2 separate regions of the Homo sapiens genome follow, and region 2 is linked to region 1. Evidence: fine-mapped expression QTL. A gene starts in region 1. The other region holds a variant in brackets. All regions are shown on one strand. Distances are between the middles of the regions. Region 1 holds the start of IRF2BPL (interferon regulatory factor 2 binding protein like). Region 2 holds the start of LINC02289 (long intergenic non-protein coding RNA 2289).

What was found.
Region 2: its variant is fine-mapped to the expression of IRF2BPL in whole blood (TOPMed, PIP above 0.99).

Annotation. Positions count from the first base shown.
Region 1 is chr14:77,026,849-77,031,228 of GRCh38, forward strand. It overlaps IRF2BPL (interferon regulatory factor 2 binding protein like), which reads right to left and starts at 1,860. Exons shown (of 1, transcript NM_024496.4): 1 at 1-1,860. The coding sequence starts at 944. It overlaps LOC107984638 (a long non-coding RNA gene), which reads left to right and starts at 620. Exons shown (of 4, transcript NR_190002.1): 1 at 620-963; 2 at 2,440-2,632; 3 at 2,813-2,888; 4 at 2,979-4,380. RefSeq lists silencers at 990-1,489, 1,610-1,819, 2,020-2,149 and an enhancer at 2,913-3,433.
Region 2 is chr14:77,073,709-77,078,088 of GRCh38, forward strand. It overlaps LINC02289 (long intergenic non-protein coding RNA 2289), which reads right to left and starts at 2,483. Exons shown (of 3, transcript NR_110553.1): 1 at 2,397-2,483. RefSeq lists a silencer at 2,338-2,632. The variant A/G (reference allele first, on the strand shown) is at 2,391.

The sequences.
Region 1 (4,380 bases):
GAAGACGACGCGGAGGACGACGTGGCCGATACACCCGGGGTACCCCCGAGACAAGCGGGGCCCCCAGGAGCCCCTGGGGGAGCAGGCGTCGGGGGCCCACGGCTGCCCAGGGCGTGGGGAGGGGGTGGGGGGAGTACCGCAGCGCTGGCCGGGCCGTTAAGCAGCGTCTGCGGTAGCAGGTTGGGGGGCACGGTGAGCTGGGGGCCTCCGCCACCCCCCGGGTTGGGCAGCCCCGTAACCAGCCCACCGTGCGTTCCACGCCGAGACGCCACCGACGCCGCCGCTGAAGAAGAATTGGGGCTCTGACGGTTCAGCTCTGGGGGTCCCTCCTCTGGTGTTGGTTTGGGGAAGCCGTTTGGGCCCCCCAGGCCGTTGGGCAGTCGCGCGGTGTGGCTGCTGCTTCCCAGGCTCACCGGCGGTGGCGGGTACTCGAAGCGGCTGCGCTGTTCCACCGCAGCGGCGGCGGCGGCGGCGGCGGCGGCGGCAGCGCTTAGGCCGTAGCGCTCCAGGCCAGACGGGGCCGCCAGCACCGCAGGCTTGCTGGAACCATCAACGTGGTTGAGCTGTTGTTGCTGCTGCTGCTGCTGCTGCTGCTGCTGCTGTTGCTGCTGCTGCTGCTGCTGTTGCTGTTGCTGTTGCGCGGCGGCGGCGGCGGCCGCCGCTGCTGCCGCCGCCGCCGCCGCTTCCTTAGCCGACAGGGCCACTGTCTTGACCCCGACGGGCGGCGGCGGCCCGGGGGAGCGGCCGTCCTGGAAGCAGCCGTGCGCCCGCTTCAGCTGGCGCGCTGTCTCGATCACGAATTCGATGCGATCAGCGCCCTCGTAGTTGACGCAACCGCGGCATACGGGTTCCGAGAAGTCCCAGATCATGGCCCAGGGCATGCGGGGCAGGTCGCACAGGTAGCAAGATTGTCTCCGGGACGAGGACACCTGCGCCGCCGACATGATGCCTGCCCTGGGGAAGGTAGGCCCCCGCCCGGGCTGTCTCCGCGGCGCCTTCTCCTCCGGGAGGACTGGCCGGCTGGGGAGGGAGTCCGACTGCGGGGGAGGGAGGAGGGGGGGCGAGAAAGTTCTGCCCCAGGGGCTGGAGGGAACGCGAGTCTCCACCGCCGGCGCAGCGCCTCGCCGTGGGGGCTCCACCGCCCGGGCAGCGGACGGGTTCAGCCCTCTCTTCGCCCCCACCTCCTACTGCGGTTGACTCGTCGCGAGGGGAGCTCAGGCGCCTTCTTCCTGGTGCTGCAGACTTGGGCTGGAAGCTCCCGGCCCGAGGGGAGGGGGCGAGGGTGCCCGGTGGTGGCCGCCGTTGCCTCTTGGCCCCCTCCCCGGAGTGGCTGGTGCGTGGAAGCTCGAAAGGGGCTGTCTCTTCCTCTCCCCGGGGACCCCCCTACGAGCTGCGTCCTCTCCCCGACGGGCCCCCTGGGGCGAGGGCCAGAGGGTTCAGTGCCACCCGGTGCCCGGGTCCAATCTTGCTGAAGCCGCTGCTTCCCCGGAGGACCGGGGGAGGGGGTGGCAGCCGAGAAAGGACCTTCTCCCCTCCGCAGCGTCGGCCGTTCTGCTGGCGGCGACTGGGTTTGCACCCCGGAGGGAGCCGCCGCGGCCACTGCTTCCAGGACGCACGAGAGCAGAGGAGAGGAGTGCACGCACGCAGGCTCCCGCCGCCCCCAGGCCTGGCCGGCGCCCGGGCCGCCGCGGCTGGCGGCGCTCACGTTGGCTGCAGGGCGCTCGCGCGGCGCCTCGGCCCGGGTCGCATCCCTTCCCGCTCGTGCTCACGCTCGCCCGGAATGTGGGGTTGTGATTGTTACTCTACGTTCCGGAGGCGCGTCTCGGCGCTCCTGCTCCGGCTGCGGCTCGCGCTGTCCCCGGCTTGGCCGCGCGGGATGCCGCCCGGGCGGAGCGCTGACGTCACCGCCATGCTCTGCACCAGTTCTTCCCCCTCCCCTTTACACTTCCTCTGTGGAGCCCACTTGTTGCTCAGGCAAGGCGCATGCGCGGCAGGACGCCCAGATTCCTCCCAGCCGGCCCCTCCTCCGCGCCTCCGCCCTCCCCTCCCCCCTCGCCGTGTGTGTACAACAGCTGAGGCCCGGCGAGCTAATGCTGGAAGTCCAGAGCTGGGGGTGGAAATTAAACAGACGATGACCTTTCCTTTCCCTGCCGGGCATTCCCAAGTAAAAACGCATTTAAGAACCACTAGCGTCGTTTCCGATCCCTGCTCCCCACCCCACCCCCAAGCCTCGGCAGTGAATTTAAATGTCCTGTTTCAGGATTTTTCGCCGTGAATTTCGTATAAGGTATTAACCATTTCATCTGCGGTTGAACCTTATCCCCCCCGGCATGGATGTTAAATTCATCGCCACCACTGATGCCGAAGCACCTGCAAAATTAGCTGTTTTCCAATCTTCCAGAAATTGTCTTTTCTATTTGTTTTTGTGCCCTGATCTAGGAACCCGGGCTTCAACGATAGAGCTAAATGAATTCAGAGTGCGCTACCCTTCCCCCCAGCCGCACTTTAAAAATTTTGGCTGAACGTCTGAAGAAGATACGAGCACCCCGAGGCCTTTAAGGAAAACAGGCAACTGGCTGCGCACAGCTGCAGTTCAGGGCAGGGAGGGGGAGGGGCCGGAGAGGCCAAACAGGTGAGTGTTTTTTCTAGAGTTTGATTTTTAAAAGGTGGAGGCAGCATTTAATAATACTGATACATTTTTGTAAAGCACAGCCGCAGTTTTCAAAGTTCTTTCTCAGGCGCTGTGATCTCACTCCATGTTGCCCCAGAAGGCGGAACAAGGCCGTGATTTTTTTTTTTTTTTTTTTTTAAGACGGAGTCTTGCTCTGTCGCCCAGGCTGGAGTGCAAAATGGCGCGATCTCGGCTCACTGCAACCTCTGCCTCGCAGGTTCAAGCGATTCTTCCGCCTCAGCCTCCCAAGTAGCTGTGATTACCGGCACCCGCCATCAGGCCCAGCTAATTTTTTGTATTTTTGTAGAGACATGGTTTCACCATGTTAGCCAGCTGGTCTTGAACTCCTGACCTCAGGTGATCCTCCCGCCTCGGCCTTCCAAAGTGCTGGGATTACAAGCATGAACCACCACGCCCGGCCAAGGCCGTGATTTCTTCTGCCTTACAAGATCACTGCTCATCAGTATTGCTTATGGCACGATGGATATGTTGGTCATAGCTCTAGTTGGGGCATTTCTATTGATTATTCTAATTATTGGGTTTGCTTTTTTTTTTTTTTTTATTTCATGAAAACTGAGATAATCCCAGGGAAGGCTGGAGAAGGGAAAGCAATATAATGGGATTTCGGATTCTGAAGTGTGGCCCACCAGATTGAAATTTCCTCTCCATCACTAACTGGCTCTCCACCCTTAAGCTAGTTACCCACAAAATCTCTCTTTTCCATGGAAAAGAGAATGGAATGATAGCTCCCAGGTTGTTAGGGTTGTTTGAGATTTCAACTTCGGTTTTTTGTTTTTTTGAGATAGGATCTTGTTCTGTTGCCCAGGCTGGAGTGCAGTGGCACACTCGCGGCTGGCAGCAGCCTGACCTCCCAGGCTCAAGTAATCCTCCCACCTCAGCCTCCCTAGTAGCTGGGACTACAGGCATGTGCCATTACACCTGGCCAATTTTTTTGTATTTTTGGAAAGGGATGGGGTTTTGCCGTGTTGCCCAGGCTGGTCTCAAACTCCTGGGCCCAAGTGATGCACCCACCTTGGCCTCCCAAAGTGTTGGGATTACAGGCATGAGCCACCTCACCCGGCCTCAATTTGTTTCTTGTCATAAGAAGAGATAACGCTTACTTAGACTTGCCGTGGGACCTTAGTAAACTAGGTGGCTTTACTTGCATCACCCTTAATATTATCTACATTATTAAGGGGATATTATCTATAGTATTTTGTTGTTGTTTTGAGACAGAGTCCACTCTGTCACCCAGGCTGGAGTACAGTGACGCAATCTCAGCTCACTGCAACCTCCACCTCCCAGGTTCAAGCAATTCTCCTGCCTCAGTCTCCCAAGTACCTGGGGATACAGGCGCCCGCCACCACACCCAGCTCATTTTTGTATTTTTAGTAGAGACGGACTTTCACCATGTTGGCCAGGCTGGTCTCGAACTCCTGACCTCAGGTGATCCTCCCGCCTCAGCCTCCCAAAGTGCTGGGATTACAGGCATGACCCACCGTGACCGGCCTATTACAGTATTAAACCCTTAATATTATCTACAGGGTAGATTCTTTTACCTCCATTTTACAAACCAGGAAAGTAAAGAGGCTATATAACTTGCCTACAGCCATTAGTGATGGGGCTGGGATTTGAATCCAGTAAATCTGATTTGAGGTGTCTTTGACAAGCTCAGGCTTGCAGAGGTGGTTTGGGGTGCTCAAAATTCC
Region 2 (4,380 bases), 47 kb after region 1:
GGACAACTCACTATAAATGGCTGTGGGGCCCATTGCTGGAAATATCCCCAGAGAGAATAGCACTGGGGCCCCTAACCATTCCAAGTAATGTTTAAGAATTATAATATGGAACTCTTTCTGTTCCAAGTTACACTGAGGCCCCAATATGACAGATATCAGTATTAGTTATCTATTGCTACATAACAGATTACCTCAAAATTTAGTAGCTTAAAACAATAATAAACATTTATTATCTCAGTTTCTCTTGATGAGGAATTGGGGAGTGGCTTAGCTGGTGTTCTGGCTTAGGGTTTGTCATGAGGTTACAGTCAAAATGTCAAGTAGGGATGCAGTCATTTGAAGGCTTGACTGGGGCCGTATGATCTGCATCTAAGATGGCACGCTCACATGGCCAGCAAGATGGTGCTGGCTACTGGCAGGAGGCCTCAGTTCCTTGCCATGTGGACCTCTCCATGGACCTCCCTGAGTAGCTTCATGACATGGCAGCTGACTTCTCCCAGAATGAGTGGTTCAAGAGAGCAGGGAGGAGGTCACAATGTCTCTTATGACTATATTAGATCCACAGGGCTGCTGTAACAAAGTACCACAAGCAAGATAACTTAACAGAAATTTACTCTTTCACAGTTCTGGGGGCCAGAAGTCTGAAACCACATTGTCAGCAGGGTCAGAACGGTGGCACATGGAAGGTGCTCATTGGTGAAACAATGAGTGGGAAAGAATAAATCATTCCTTGCCTCTTCCAACTTCTGACGGCCGCAGATGTTTCTTGGCTTGTGGCTGTATCATTCCAATCTCTGTCTCCATCTTCACACGGCCTTCTCCCTTGTGTCTGTCTACTCTTTGTCTCTCTCTCCTTATGAGAACACCAGTCATTGGATGTAGGGCCCACTCTAGTCAAGAACAACCCTTGATTACAACTGCGAAGACTATTTCCAGAAAAGGTCACATTTATAGGCCCTGGGGGTTAGGGCTGCAACATATCTTCTGGGGGACATCATTAAACACACAACAATGACCTAGCCTCAGAAGATGCATGCCATCAGCTCTGCAATAGCAAGTGGCTACAAGGGTCGGCCCTGTTCACGGAGGGAGGAGACACAATGATGTGAATACCAGGAGATGGGGACAATGAGGGGCCATTGTGGAAGCAGGCTACCACAATATCATCAGATAGCAAACTGAACATGAGACAGACTCCCATATGTAGTATTTACAAAGGAAATAATGGGGAACCAGTTGCATAGCACTCAGGGCCCTCAGCCTACCAACAATATAGAGTGTGGAGAATGGGGAGAGTTTGGAAATAGAAACTTCCAGAAAGGGCAAAGCCATGCTGTAAGCTACCCCACCAAGGAGTTAGGGGCCCTACTGCTTTCAACTCAAGCCTAGTGATGGGGGCTTCCATGCAGCCACTTGGAGCTGTGGGCCCCCATGGGACTGTGCCAGGAGGGACTGCATTAGGATGAGTGAAGGGGCTGTGTGAGTTCTTCCCATGGGCCACATGTGGATCAGATGGACCATGGCAGGAGAGAGGGCCAAGGTGGGGGTCATTTTAAGTCCTGTAGGGCCTCTGAGAAGGGCAAAGGGATGTCAGCAGAAAGAAGTTGGAAGAGGATGCTGGATTTCTAGGGGTTGAAGATGGAGTCATAGCTGTACCTGAAATGGAGGTGCAGAACAGGGAACTTCAGGAGAAAACCTTAGAGATGGGAACTTTTTTTTTTTTTTTTTTTAAGACAGGGTCTCACTCTGTTGCCCAAGCTGGAGTCCAGTGGCCCAAACTCGGCTCACAGCAACCTCTACCTCCTGGGTTCAAGCAATCCTCCTGCCTCAGCCTCCCAAGTAGCTGGGACTACAGGCGTGCAGCACCACCCCCAGATACTTTTTGTATTTTTGGTAGAGATGAGGTTTAGCCATGTTGCTCGGGCTGGTCTAGTACTCCTGGGCTCCAGTGATCTGCCCGCCTCCGCCTTCCAAAGTGCTGGGATTATAGGCGTGAGCCACCAAGCCTGGCTGAGATGGGAACTTCTGAAGAACACAGGGAACCCTCCAGAAAGAGCTTTCACCATCTGCCACACCCAGAGAGCTGGCAATCATACAGTCAAGTAAAAACTGCCCTATTCCCCTGCTCCCCATCCGCTTCCCTGCATCCTCACCCACCACCTCCACTTAGACTCTGAAAGCAACCAGCAAGTGGGGAGAGGGGTATTCGGGAGAGAATAGACAAAAGCCACCATGCCCAGTCCCTGGCAGCTGGCAGCCCCCAACTAAGGCCTTAACTAGGGCAGGAGGAAGAAGATTTCTCTTTGAAGAAAAATGCAAGAGTCATTTAATATCTTTGGGTGGCTGCTTTAAATCTCTAAGTCGATACTGGATTTCGTGACATAAAATGT[A/G]CATACCTAAGCATGACCAGAAGAGCCTCGGGGTCAGCTGAGCTTTCAGCCAGGGGAAGGGGAAATGCTTCCCTTGCTTTAGCTCAAATGCACAGTGAGAGCCAAAGCAAATTGAGTTACATGTTGGTTCCACCCCACATTCAAGGGATTGGTTTCACCGAATCCCCGCCTCCACAGGGAATTGGGTCTTATATTTCTTACCCCCAACCCTCCCCGCCATGGCAGAGCCACAAGGAGGTTCCTGAAGAAAATCCCTTCTCGGCTTTTGTGCAGAATTGAAGAATGTTTACTATGTTTTCCTTCCTGTCTCTCTGGAAATGACGCAAAGAATAACAACAACAAAAAAGAACTCCTTGTCCCGTGCAAAACACCCGCCCCTCCCCCGCCCCTGACCTCCTAACTCTTCACCCTGTGTTGGCCTGACTTCACCCTGGGATGGGGAAACTTCCTGGGAGGATATAGCTGACCTGGGAACAAAACTTGTTTTTTTGAAAGCTTTGTGCAACGTCAACTAAGTTGGGGGAGGGGTCTGGGCAAGGAAAGAAGAAAGCAAAGGGGGGCAGGGTGGGAACAGTTCTGCTAAACCAAACAATTCCCCAGGGATGATGGAGCTGTGGTGACCTGATAAGTCCTTTAAATGTCTTATTAATTACTGGGGGAAAAATTGGCTACTTCTGAGTCTCCCCTCTCTCACTGTCCTTGCACAAGCTTGGGACTAGCTCTGTCCTTTTTTAAGAGTCAGTCTTGGGCCGGGCATAGTGGCTCACTCCTGTAATCCCAGCACTTTGGGAGGCTAAGGCAGGAGGATCCCTTGAGGCCAGGAGCTTGAGACCAGCCTGGGCAACATAGCGAGACCTCATCCCTACAAATAATTTTTAAAAATTAGCTTGGAGTGTTGGTGTGTGTCTGTGGTCCCTGCTACTCAGGAGACTGAGGCAGGAGGATTACTTAAGCCCAGGCAGTGGAGGCAGCAGTGAGCTGTGATTGCACTATTGCACTCCAGCCTGGGTGATAGAGCAAGAACCTATCTCAAAAAAAAAAAAAAAAAAAAAAGAGTCCAGCTTTTTAAAGAAGGGTGCCCCTTGGTGGAAGACAACAGGACAAGGCAGGAGCTGGGGCTGCGGAGAGTCCGGGGTCTGCAGAGCATGGGGCTGCCATCAGAGACCCACCAGGCAGGTTCCTGCTCCTAGCAAGGACCCGGCTGAGCAGAGATGAGGGTGTGGAGGTGAACCTGGAAAACATGCAGAGGATTCTAGACACATTCCACAGTCAGAGCCTCTGGAAAGCCCACCTTCTCCATCACAGAGGCTTTGGGGAATAGACATCCTGTTTCTCTGTATTATTACAGCACAAAGCATTTATCATGCTGACAATGACAGTGACATTTCAGGACCTAAACAAGCTTAGTTGTTCACAGCTTACAGGAGAGAAGGCTCCTAACACTCTTTATTTATTTATTTATTTGTTTGTTTATTTATTTTGTTTTTGTTTTTTTTTGTTTTGAGACAGAGTTTCGCTCTGTCGCCCAGGCAGACAGAGTGCAGTGGCAAGATCTCGGCTCACTGCAAGTTCCGCTTCCAGGGTTCACGCCATTCTCCTGCCCAGCCTCCCGAGTAGCTGGGACTACAGGTGCCTGCCACGGCGCCTGGCTAATTTTTTGTATTTTTAGTAGAGGCGGGGTTTCACCGTGTTAGCCAGGATAGTCTCCATCTCCTGACATCTTGATCCACCCACCTCGGCCTCCCAGAGTGCTGGGATTACAGGCGTGAGCCACCGCGCCCGGCCTATTTATTTGTTTTTTGAGACAGAGCCTTGCTCTGTCATCCAGGCTGGAGTGCAATGGTGTGATCTCGGCTTATTGCAACTTCCACCTCCCAGGTTCAAGCAATTCTCCTGCCTCAGCCTCCCGAGTAGTCGGGACTACAGGTGTGCACTACCACAGCAGGCTATTTTTTTTTTTTTTTTTTAGTAGAGACAGAGTTTCTCCACG